Linked DNA regions of Homo sapiens. The protein of the gene in region 1 interacts with the protein of each later gene in a pairwise test. Each region holds a gene or a part of one and is shown in the gene's direction. Other genes may lie near its edges. The genes, in order: HARS1, TTC3 and TNIK.

Region 1 (3,653 bases):
TTTCGTTATATACTTCAACCAGCACGACATATCACGACAGATTGAATGCAAAAATCACATATGAGAATCCTGCTGTCTTCTATTCAGTCAGACATTAAAGATTTGCAAAGATGTAAATCAGTGCCACTCTTCTCACTAAATTGTTTTGGAAAACAGTTACCTTTTTCTAAAATATTATTTGCGTTAACATATAATAGATATATTATTTGTGTTAACATATGTTATTTGTTAAATGAATAAATATTTTAAAATTTTTGCCGTTCTAATTCTAATACAGTAAATATTGATAGGTATAATCCACTTTGGGGTCTTGAATACATAGTAAGAGTGTAAAGAGGTCCTGAAACCAAAGACTTTGGAGTAGGGTATAAAAGCCCAGATTGGAAGCTCTGACCTGGAAGGACAACACAGTTCTAGTCCTGACTGCCACGAACATGCTGAATGGCCTTAAGAAATGACTTAACTTCTCAACATCCTGTACTTCATCTGTAAAATTTATCTGCCTAGCCTATGTCATAGAGTTGTTACCAGAAACAAATTAGAGAACAAACAGTTGTAACTAAGATTTAAAAGAAAAGTTATATTGGGAGAGAAACGTTGCTTATAAAATTTGGAATTCAATTAGTTGAGCCAGTTTGAGTTGGTTATATTGCCTATAATCATGTAGGTATTTTTTTGTTGTTATTATTTTTGTTTGTTTGGTTGGGTTTGTTTTTGTTTTTGTTTTTGTTTTGACAGAGTCTTGCTCTGTCTCCCAGGCTGGAGTGCAGTGGCACTATCTCAGCTCACTGCAAGCTCCACCTGCCGGGTTCACGCCATTCTCCTGCCTCAGCCTCCCAAGTAGCTGGGACTACAGGCACCTGCCACCACGCCCGGCTAATTTTTTTGTATTTTTAGTAGAGACGGGGTTTCACAGTGTTCGCCAGGATGGTCTTGATCTCCTGACTTCGTGATCCGCCCGCCTCGGCCTCCCCAAGTGCTGGCATTACAGGTGTGAGCCACCGCGCCCGGCTGGTTGGTTTGTTTTGTTTTTGAGACAGAGTCTCGCTCTGTCTCTCAGTCTGGAGTGCAGTGGTGCAATCTTGGCTCACTGCAACCTCCGCCTCCCAGGTTCAAGTGATTCTCCCTGCCTTGAGCCTCCTGAGTAGCTGGGATTACAGGCACCTGCCACCACCATTTGTTTGTTTTATTGAGACAGTCTCACTCTGTTGCCCAGGCTGGAGTGCAGTGGCACAATCTCGGCTCACTGCAACCTCCACCTCCCAGGTTCAAGGATCCTCATGCATCAGCCTCCCAAGTAGCTGGGACTACAAGGGGCGTGTCGTCGCACCCGGCTAATTTCTGTATTTTTAGTAGAGACGAGGTTTCACCATGTTGGCCAGGCTGGTCTCGAACCCCTGACCTCAGGCAATCCATCTGCCTTGGCCTCCCGAAGTGCTGGGATTACAGGCGTGAGCCACTGTGCCTGGCCTCAGGTAGGTGTTTGTTATTAGGCCAGGAAATGTTCTGTTATCTGAGAGAGAGTGTTTAGAAAAATGGCTTAAAGAAAAGAGTTCTAAGAATTTTAGAAAATAGACCCAAACTTAAAAGGGAATGGAGTTTGGAAGGCAGATAGCAAATGGGTGTGGGAATTAATAGGGAATTATTTGTACTTGTTTTAAAACTCAGTGGCCTGTAGGAAAATCTGTTTAGAGCAGGATTTGCTTTTTCATTATTGAGGTCATCCTTTTATATTTCCAAAACATATTGTTCTTGGTTTTCAAACCTCATTTCTGGTTCTCTGGCTGATTTCAACTCCAAGGGCACAAGAGACTATAGTCCCCGGCAGATGGCAGTTCGCGAGAAGGTGTTTGACGTAATCATCCGTTGCTTCAAGCGCCACGGTGCAGAAGTCATTGATACACCTGTATTTGAACTAAAGGTGAGGAATGGGCAAGAAGAAACTACATGGTAGATGAGTGGGCATTTGAATAACAAAGAAGATGACAACAAGAGAGTGAGGGTCCAAAGGGCCCACTCCTGTTGTGGACACAGACCAGTCTTTGCTCCAATAAGAAGGGGGACAAGAATGGCTTGGAGGGAGAGGCCCTGTCTTTTATTATCTTGGTTGTGGCCAGCAGATTCCAAAAGAGAGCCATTCTTTGGAATGGTAATTGTTCTGGGTCCTCTCTACATTGTATTGCGTGGCATCTGTACTTGGAATGTTTTCTAGATTCATGCAAACCATACGTACATAAATATGCAACCACTCTCCTATTGATGGACTCTGAAGTTGTTAGTAGTTCTTTGCTATTAAAAACTAGATTGCAACTGGGCACATCTGTAGTTCCTGCTTCTCAGGAGGCTGAAGCAGAAAGATCACTGGATCCGAGGAGTTCAAGGCTGTAGTGTGCTATGATGGTGCCTGTGAATAGCCACCATACTCCAGTCTGGGCAATGTAGCAAGCCCCTGTCTCTAAAACAAACCAGCCAACCCAGATTGCATTACTACCTGCTTCAAACCCAGTGATTCCCACTGCACTTATAGTACAACCCAAACTCTTTACTCAGGTTTACAGAGCCCTAGGTGATCTGGCCACTGCCTCTCCTACCTCATCTCATGCTATTTTTCCTCTTGCCCACTATGCTACTCTGGTCTTCTTCCTACTCTTGGAACATAGTCAGTGTGTTTGTACCTCCACACCTTTGTTCTTGCTCTTCCCCTTTCCTGAACTCCCTTTCCTTAGCTCTTTGCATGATTTATTTCAGATTATACTAGAGACTGCAGATTTTAATTCCTTTTTAAAAAAAAAAAATACAAATAGAGACAGAGGTCTTGCTATGTTGCCCAGGCTGCTTGCGAACGAACCCCTGGCCTCAAGTGGTCCTCCTTCCTCAGCCTCCCAAAGTGCTGACATTACAGGCATGAGCCACCACGTCCAGCCAGCCAGATTTTAATTTCAGAGCTCAGCTAAAATGCCACTCCTCAAGTAATCTTCTCCAACTACCTTCTTTAAAGTAGCTGTTCTCTCTCTTATCACAATGAGCTAGTTTATTGCCTTTAGGCTATAAAACTGTCTGAAATTATCTGTTGTTTCCTTCATCAATGTCTCTTTTTATTGATATTTAATTGTACATATTTATGAGACTGTTTTTACCTACTGTATTAGTTTGCTAGGGCTACCATAACAAAGTACCATAGACTAGGTAGTCTAAACAACAGAAATTTATTTTCTCACAGTTCCAGAGGCTGGAAGTTGACATAACATGTTGGCAGGCCTAGTTCTTTCTGAAGGCCATAAGGAAGGATCTGTTCCAGGCCTCTCTCCATGGCTTGTAGATGGCCATCATCTCCCTTTGTTTTTTTTTTAATTGAGACAGAGTCTCGCTCTGTTGCCTGGGCTGGAGTGCAGTGGCACCATCTCATCTCACTGCAACTCCACCTCCCAGGTTCAAGCGATTCTCCTGCCTCAGTCTCCTAAGTAGCTGGGATTACAACACGTGTGCCACCACACCTGGCTAATTTTTCTATTTTTAGTAGAGACGAGGTTTCACCATGTTGACCAGGTTGGTGGTCTTGAATTCCTGGCCTCCAGTGATTCGCCCACCCCAGCCTCCCAAAGTGCTGGAATTACAGGCATGAGCCACCGCGCCCAGCCTCCCTTTGTCTTTAC
Region 2 (3,653 bases), on another chromosome or scaffold:
GGGATTACAGCCGTGCGCCACCATGCTTGGCTGATTTTTTTGTATTTTTAGTAGAGACGGAGTTTCACCATGTTGGCCAGGCTCTTCACAAACTCCTGACCTCAAGTGGTCTGCCCACCTCGGCCTCCCAAAGTGCTAGGATTACAGGTGTGAGCCACCGCTCGTGGTATGGCATTAATTCTCTTTTTAATCTCTGTTTTATTTGTATATGTGTTCCCCTTTTCTCATGTTGAATATTATTTATGTCTGACTTCTCTTTCTTGATCAGTCTTAGTAAAAGTTTGTCCATTTTTAAAATCTTGGCAAAGGATTAACTTTTGGCCTAATTTGTTCTATTATTTGTTTTTTATTTCATTGATCTTTTTTCTCTTTTATTATTTCATTTTACTTTCAGTTTATTATTTTACTATTTTTTTCACTTAAATTACACACTTAATATTAATTTTCAACCATTCCGATTTCCTAGTATAAGCATGCAAGACTGTAAACTTCCTCAAAGTTCATTTTTGCTTATCTAACATAGTTTAATTTATAGTGTTTTCATTAACTTTCAAATCTAAGTATTTTTACAATTTCTATTTTGATTTTTTCTTTGACTTATGAGTTACTTAGACATTTTTAAATTTTCAAATGTGTCTATATTGTTTTCCTTTAATTATCGATTTCTTACTTGTGTTGCCAGAGAATATTTTATCTTTTTAGCATTTTTTTTTTTTTGCCCTTGCTTTATGGCCTTGTACATAGTGAATTATTAGAACTGTTCTGTGTACACTTGTGAAGAGTATATATTCTGTAATTGTTAAGTGTCTATTAGGTAAAGCTTGTTATTTGTGTTGTTCTGATAGTCTTTATCCTTATTAATTTTGGTTTATCCTATCATTAACTGAGAGAAGTGTGTTGCAATATTCCACCATTACTAGTTTCTAACAGATTTCCTGTAGTTCTAACAATTTTTGTTCTTCTGTATTTTGAGACTTTTATTAGCTACATGCAAGCTTAACATTTTTTTCCTAGTGGCTCGAACCTTTACTATATTGTGATCTTCTCTAAGTTTGCTTCTTTGTCTTAGAGGCTTTTTGTCTGATCCCGTCTTTCTTTTGGTGCTAATTTACCTGGAATATTCTTTTCTTTCATTTTACTTTGATTTTTTTTAGTGTCCTTACATTTTAAGTGTCTCTTATAAGGGACATACTACTGGATTTTTCTTTTAATCTCACCAGACAACTTCTGTCTTTTAATTGGTTATGTTCCAGGTGTCTTGGTTGGTGTTTGACTCAGTTTTAGATATTAAAAAAAATCTAAAAGTATTTTTATTTTACCTTTGTTCTTGACAGATCATTTTGATGGATGTACAATTGTAGGTTGGTGTTTCTTTTCTGTCAGTAGGGTAGGAATACTATTCTGCTGTTGCTTATACAAAGTGTGCTGCCAGTTTTATTTATGCCTTTTTTTTTTTTTTTTTTTTTTTTTTTGAGGTGGAGTCTTGCTGTGTTGTTAGGCTGGAGTGCAGTGGCGCCATCTTGGCTCATTGCAACCTCCGCCTCCTGGATTCAAGCGATTCTCCTGCCTCAGACTCCCAAGTAGCTGGGACTACAGGCACCTGCCACCATGCCTGGCCAATTTTTGTATTTTTAGTAGAGATGGGGTTTCACCATGTTGGCCAGGATGGTCTTGATCTCTTGACCTCGTGATCTGTCCGCCTCAGCCTCCCAAAGTGCTGGGATTACAGGCGTGAGCCACTGCACCCAGCCTATTTATGCGTTTTTTGAAGAAAATATCATTTTTCTTTTAGTTACATTGGATTTTCTGTCTTTTGTGTTACATCATTTCACTTCTAAGTCTAGATAGAGATTATATTTATCCTATTTTGGATGCATGTGTTTCATGATTCTGCATTTTGTCTTTCATGAGATCTAGAAGTTTCTGAGCCCTGTATTCTTTAAATATTATGTCTCATTAGTCTCTTCTCTCCTGCTGGAACTTTAACTGGATATATATATACACTAAACTGTTTCCAGATCACTTATTCTTTATCTTTCATATTTTTTATCTCTTTGTTTCTCTTTACCAGAATTTACAGTGCTGGATAATTTCATAAGGCATATATTTTAGTTCACCAATTTTCTCTTCAACTGTGCCTAATATCCTCTGTAACCCATCCTGTCTCTTTTTTTTCTTTTAACAATTGCATTTTTAATTACTTTTTTTTTTTTTTTTTAAGATGGAGTCTCTCTCTGTCGCCCAGGCTGGAGTGCAGAGGCGCGATCTCAGCTCACTGCAAGCTCCGCCTCCCGGGTTCACGCCATTCTCCTGCCTCAGCCTCCCGAGTAGCTGGGACTACAGGCGCCCGCCACCACGCCCGGCTAATTTTTTTGTATTTTTAGTAGAGACGGGGTTTCACCGTGTTACCCAGGATGGTCTCGATCTCCTGACCTCGTCATCTGCTCACGTTGGCCTCCCAGAGTGCTGGGATTACAGGCATGAGCCACCATGCCCGGCCGCATTTTTAATTTCTAAAAGTTCTGCCTGGTTCTTTTTTGATATGTCCAGTCATTCTTCATGTTCTCATGTTATATGCTGATTTTTGTGACTCTATAGCTATTCTGTAGACTATATCAGACATTCCCAATGTCTGATATCCTTGAGGAGGGGGATGTCTAAATTTATTGCTTTTTTGTTTTTTTTTCTGTTGTCTCTCCTCAATGTAGCTGTCACCTCATGTGTTTGGTGATCATTGATTATGAACTTCTGTTTGATCTTTGTGGTGATCTTGAGAGTCTAATTTGAGGATGCTTGCTTTCTGAAAGCATTTCTATCAGCTTTGTCTGGGAGCCAGAAAGTTTAGCTGGCATCACTTTTGAGTTCCTACATTTTGCTTCTGGCCCAGGGCTCAGTGTCCTGATCCTATTACTGCTCTTGGCACCACTACTTGTAGCACTAAACTGTAGCCAGGTTTAATTTCTAGCTCAAGGTTTGTTGCTTTTGCGTGGAGAGGGTGCCTTCACATGTTCCCCTATTTCTATGAGCTCAGCAAAAACATCCAAAAAGTGTTTTTTTTTTTAATCTAGGATATACCTTTTTCCTCCCAACAGTACATTCCCCCAGAGTGTATAGTTGACCATAACTGATGGGATCAGAAGCTCTTTATTTTAATATTTAATTTTAGTAGTATATTTTTGTTTGATTGTATTATAAAAAATTTTATGGTACCAAGCAAGCTTTCTTGGTGATACCAACATTTCCATTAAAACTAGTTTACATCTAAGTTAAGATTTGAGTTATCCTAAAGAAAAGTATTAAGTAAATAGCAGTACAGATGGCAAATGGATTGCACAATATATCCTCTGGATCCATAGTGACCCTGCAGAGATAAACCTGTGATGGTCAAACAATGTGAAAACTGCTGTCAGAGACATGGGCAGGGTGCTCTTGTTTACAGAGAAGAGGTGCAAAAATCAACTTGATGGTAGTGGGAAGATCAGGAAATGCTTCCTGAAATTGAGTATTAAGAACTAATAGACATTAGGTGGTTGCAGAATAAGTTTTGTTTAGGAAGGACAAGCAGTTGGGTATGACTGGCTTCTAGGTTGTGTGTTGTGGAGTGACTGGGGATAAAAGCAGGAGCAAGATCACAAAAGGTCTTCTATGCTTAT
Region 3 (3,653 bases), on another chromosome or scaffold:
TATAAATATAAGGTCTCTAGTGGAGAGAGAGGGAGGACTTAAGTAGAAAATGTTGGATGAATTCCGCTTGTGATTCCTTCCAGTCTGGTTGGAAGCTTATTTCCCTTTAGAGAAACATGATTCTATCCACTCTTTTTTACATGTCCTGGTTGTCTCATGGGGGTGCCCTCAGTTTCTCAAAACACATTTTATATCACCCCAACTTAAAATTCTTCCCTTAATGTTTATCATATGGGTCCCCTTGTCTCCACTGTTCCCTGCAAGTGCTGTAGTTACTGTCCCCTGGGCAACACCCGCAACAGGACCTCCCCTCCTCCTGTGTCTCTACCACCAGCCTTCTTCTGACTGGTTTCTCGTACACTGTAGCCACGTGAGTCTTCCAAACGCACAGTTTCAATCTGGTTGTTTTTATTCAAGGCCTTCTCTGTCTCCTTAGTCTACAGACTGAAAACTAAACTCTTTAGCATGTTAAGACCAGCGGCAATTCAGAGGGGCCTCCCACCGAGCTCTGCAGTTTTGACGACCACTCCCCCATTGCGGCAGGGAACAATTTCATTCCCCCATGGATGCTCTGTAGGGGGCGCTCTGTCTTAGTCTCCTTTCTGTACCTACTGCCCCAACGCTGAACATTCGCAGACCACCTTTTCCACAGAAGTCTCTGATTTCTCTCAAGTTGTCCCTCCCACTCATAGACTGTCTCAGAACTGACCTCACACCTCTTTCATAACACTCAGAACTTTCTGTCTTGGATTATATTCACTACTAGACAATTCCTTTTTAGAGGCAACGTTTGATTTTCTTAGGGATCCTCACCAGTTTTCTTTACACAGCAGGCGTTCGTTCAACAAATAAATTTTGAATTAACAAAATATATACTGTGCAACCCTTTTAGAAGGGCTGGAGGTGGTGCTATGTAGAGAGAGTATAGAAACCTCAGAAAGGTGGGGCCTGTTGCTGACCATGGCACAATTTCAGGGATCATGAATTACATTATAGTCTAGGTTGCATGACTCCTGGGGACACTTTTTATGTAGAGTACAATTCCAGTGGATGCTAATTACATAGAGTACAATTCCGGGGGCACCAATTACGAGAAATACTATGCCTGGTCCTGGGTAGGTATTCCTATTTCTAGAATTTTTCTGCCAAGGAAAGTGTTCTCTCCATTGTCTTATTCTAAGTTTTGAGAGATTTAAAATACCATGGGTTAGAATTGCAAGGCGTATGTGTGTGTGTGTGTGTGTGTGTGTGTGTGTGTGTGTGTGTGTTTGGAGTGTGTTTCAATTATTTCAACAATCGGATAATACTTATGACTGCTGTTTTGATTAAACAGTAATAGATGGGCGGGAAAGGGTGTGCTTCTGGGGTGGCCCACTGGAAGACAACGTTGAGTTTTTATCTTGACAGAGCTGGCAGTGAGCGGGTAGAGAGAGTTTGGGAGATGGTGAGGTTTAATGAGGCACACAGCTGGGAGTTAGAGCCCAGCGTCATAAAGCTGGCTCTGACACCTTGCCCTCTAAGCTTCAGTTTTGTCACATGTAAGATGAGTGGTTTGGACTAGAAATTGCTGGAGGTGACTTCCAGCAATTTGTATTGCTGGGATGCATATTCCTGGAATATGTAAGGGAACTAGAGGCAGGACTGAGGGCATTTAAATAGCCATGGATTCTTATTCTATCTGTTGGAGATACCAAGAGATTGCAAACTGTGCACCTCAATGAGCTGGGAATTGCCACTGAACGTAACATCCCTTTCTAATTTTTAAATGAGCTATTTTTTTCCAGCTGTCAGATTCTGATTTATAATTTAAAGTGTTGTTCTAGTTTTTGAAGACCGAGTGATAGGACGAAGGGCTGACTGTGACTTCCGCTGGGTACTCCCTTACAGTGTTGCTGCTGGATACCCGGATTTAGACTCTGAAGTAACCCTAGATTTTAAAGTGCTGTCTCTCTAGTTAGTGAAATTAGAACCTTGGCAGTATGCATCAAGTAGGAAATTTGTAGACTTTAACAATACATTGCATATGTTACAAACATTTGTTTGATTAGTGTATTAGAAGGTGCAAGTTTGGGTGCAGGGTAAATTCAGGCCCAGTATTCTGTGATTCTGTGAAATGTGATTAACTGTAGGGGAAGAAATGCACATGGTATCCAGCATTCATTCATTTATTTGTTTGTGTATATATTCATTCAGTACCTGATTATTGGGTGCTACTAGTTGCTGGGGCTGAGCTGAAGACAACATTGGCATGGTTTCTACACCCATGGTTGGATGGAGAAGAGAGCCTGCACTTGTCTTTTACTACACTCTAGCCACACTGATTTTTTTCTGTTTTGTGAATATGCCAAGCTCATTCTTGTAGTTCTCCGTGTCAGAAATTTCACATGGAGGGCTCCATCTTATTATTTAGGTCTAAGGTGAGATGCTGCCTGTATTATTACTTATGTATCTGCATAGCAGACTACCCTCAAGCTTAGTGGCCTAAACAACAATAACCATTTATTATATCTCACAGTTTCTGTGGGCCAGGAATTCAGAAGTGGCTTACCTGGGTGGTTTTAGCATGAGGTATCTCCTGAGGTTGCAGGAAGATTTTGGCAAGGTGAGCTATCTTCTGAAGGCTTGACTGGAGCTGGAGGATCTCTTTCCAAGATGATTTACTTATGTGGTGCTGGATGTTGGCAGGAGGCCTCAGTTCCTCCCCACGTAGGTGGCTCCATTGGTTGCTTGAGCATCCTCATAACATCGTGCCCACTTTTACCAGATAGAGGAATCAAGAAAGCAGAGCAGAAGCCACTATGTCTTTTATGACCTAGCCTTGGAAATCACACACCATCATTTCTGCAATACCCTGTTGGCTACCCAAGTCAGCCCTATTCATTTCGAAGGGGACTACACAAGAATATTAACTAACACCAGAAGGCAGAAGTCACTGAGGGCCCTCTTAGAGGCTCCCTACTAAACAGAGAGGCTTTCTTTGCAATATATCTGTAAAGTAACACTCCCTTCCACCCTGAAACTGTCCAATTCAGTGCTTTATTATCTTTAAGGCAGTCGTGACTATCTGAATTTTTTAAAAATCTGGCTGTCCCAACTGGAGCCTAATAAGTTTTGTGAGAATAGGGATCTTGCCTGCATGTTCAGCACCACATTCCTGGTGCTTTGAACTGTGTCTGGCACATGATAAATGTTGATTGAATAAATATCAATTGTGTGAATGCAATTAATTCATTCATTTAAAAGGGATCTTATTTATTTATTACACCTCATACCTCCAAAAAGTAAGTTGTGGCACCTTCTGATAAAAGGCATAAATAGGATAAAGCCATAAAACCATGTTAAGGCTAAAATGAAAAGTAAAGGGGGATTGTGTTTGCATATCTTTGTCTATATATCTACTTATCTATCTGTCTGCCTAGGGCTTGGTGATTGGTGATCCAATTTACCTCTTTTGTAGGTAGAAATTTGGGGTCAGAGAAGTTACTTGTCTTGTCCAAGGATGAAATTCGAATGCAGTGCTGGGTCCCGTTATACCACGTCCCTCAACTGGATTGCCAACATCCTGGACATCTTAGTGAATCAGTCATTCCCACAACACAAAAACCAGTCTAACAAAGTATGGATACAAAGATGGTTATAAAGTTGCTTGTATG

Evidence for each region.
Region 2: the proteins of HARS1 (region 1) and TTC3 interact in a two-hybrid assay, tested with the Homo sapiens proteins (one large-scale study listed by BioGRID and IntAct).
Region 3: the proteins of HARS1 (region 1) and TNIK interact in a two-hybrid assay, tested with the Homo sapiens proteins (2 studies listed by BioGRID and IntAct).

Annotation. Positions count from the first base shown.
Region 1 is NC_000005.10:140,681,368-140,685,020, reverse strand, and holds part of HARS1 (histidine--tRNA ligase, cytoplasmic), read left to right. Parts: intron 1-1,801; coding exon 1,802-1,921; intron 1,922-3,653. UniProt on the Homo sapiens protein: Catalyzes the ATP-dependent ligation of histidine to the 3'-end of its cognate tRNA, via the formation of an aminoacyl-adenylate intermediate (His-AMP). Plays a role in axon guidance.
Region 2 is NC_000021.9:37,079,665-37,083,317, forward strand, and holds part of TTC3 (E3 ubiquitin-protein ligase TTC3), read left to right. Parts: intron 1-3,282; exon of another isoform or gene 3,283-3,653. UniProt on the Homo sapiens protein: E3 ubiquitin-protein ligase which catalyzes the formation of 'Lys-48'-polyubiquitin chains. Mediates the ubiquitination and subsequent degradation of phosphorylated Akt (AKT1, AKT2 and AKT3) in the nucleus.
Region 3 is NC_000003.12:171,450,345-171,453,997, reverse strand, and holds part of TNIK (TRAF2 and NCK-interacting protein kinase), read left to right. Parts: intron 1-3,457; exon of another isoform or gene 3,458-3,653. UniProt on the Homo sapiens protein: Serine/threonine kinase that acts as an essential activator of the Wnt signaling pathway. Recruited to promoters of Wnt target genes and required to activate their expression. May act by phosphorylating TCF4/TCF7L2.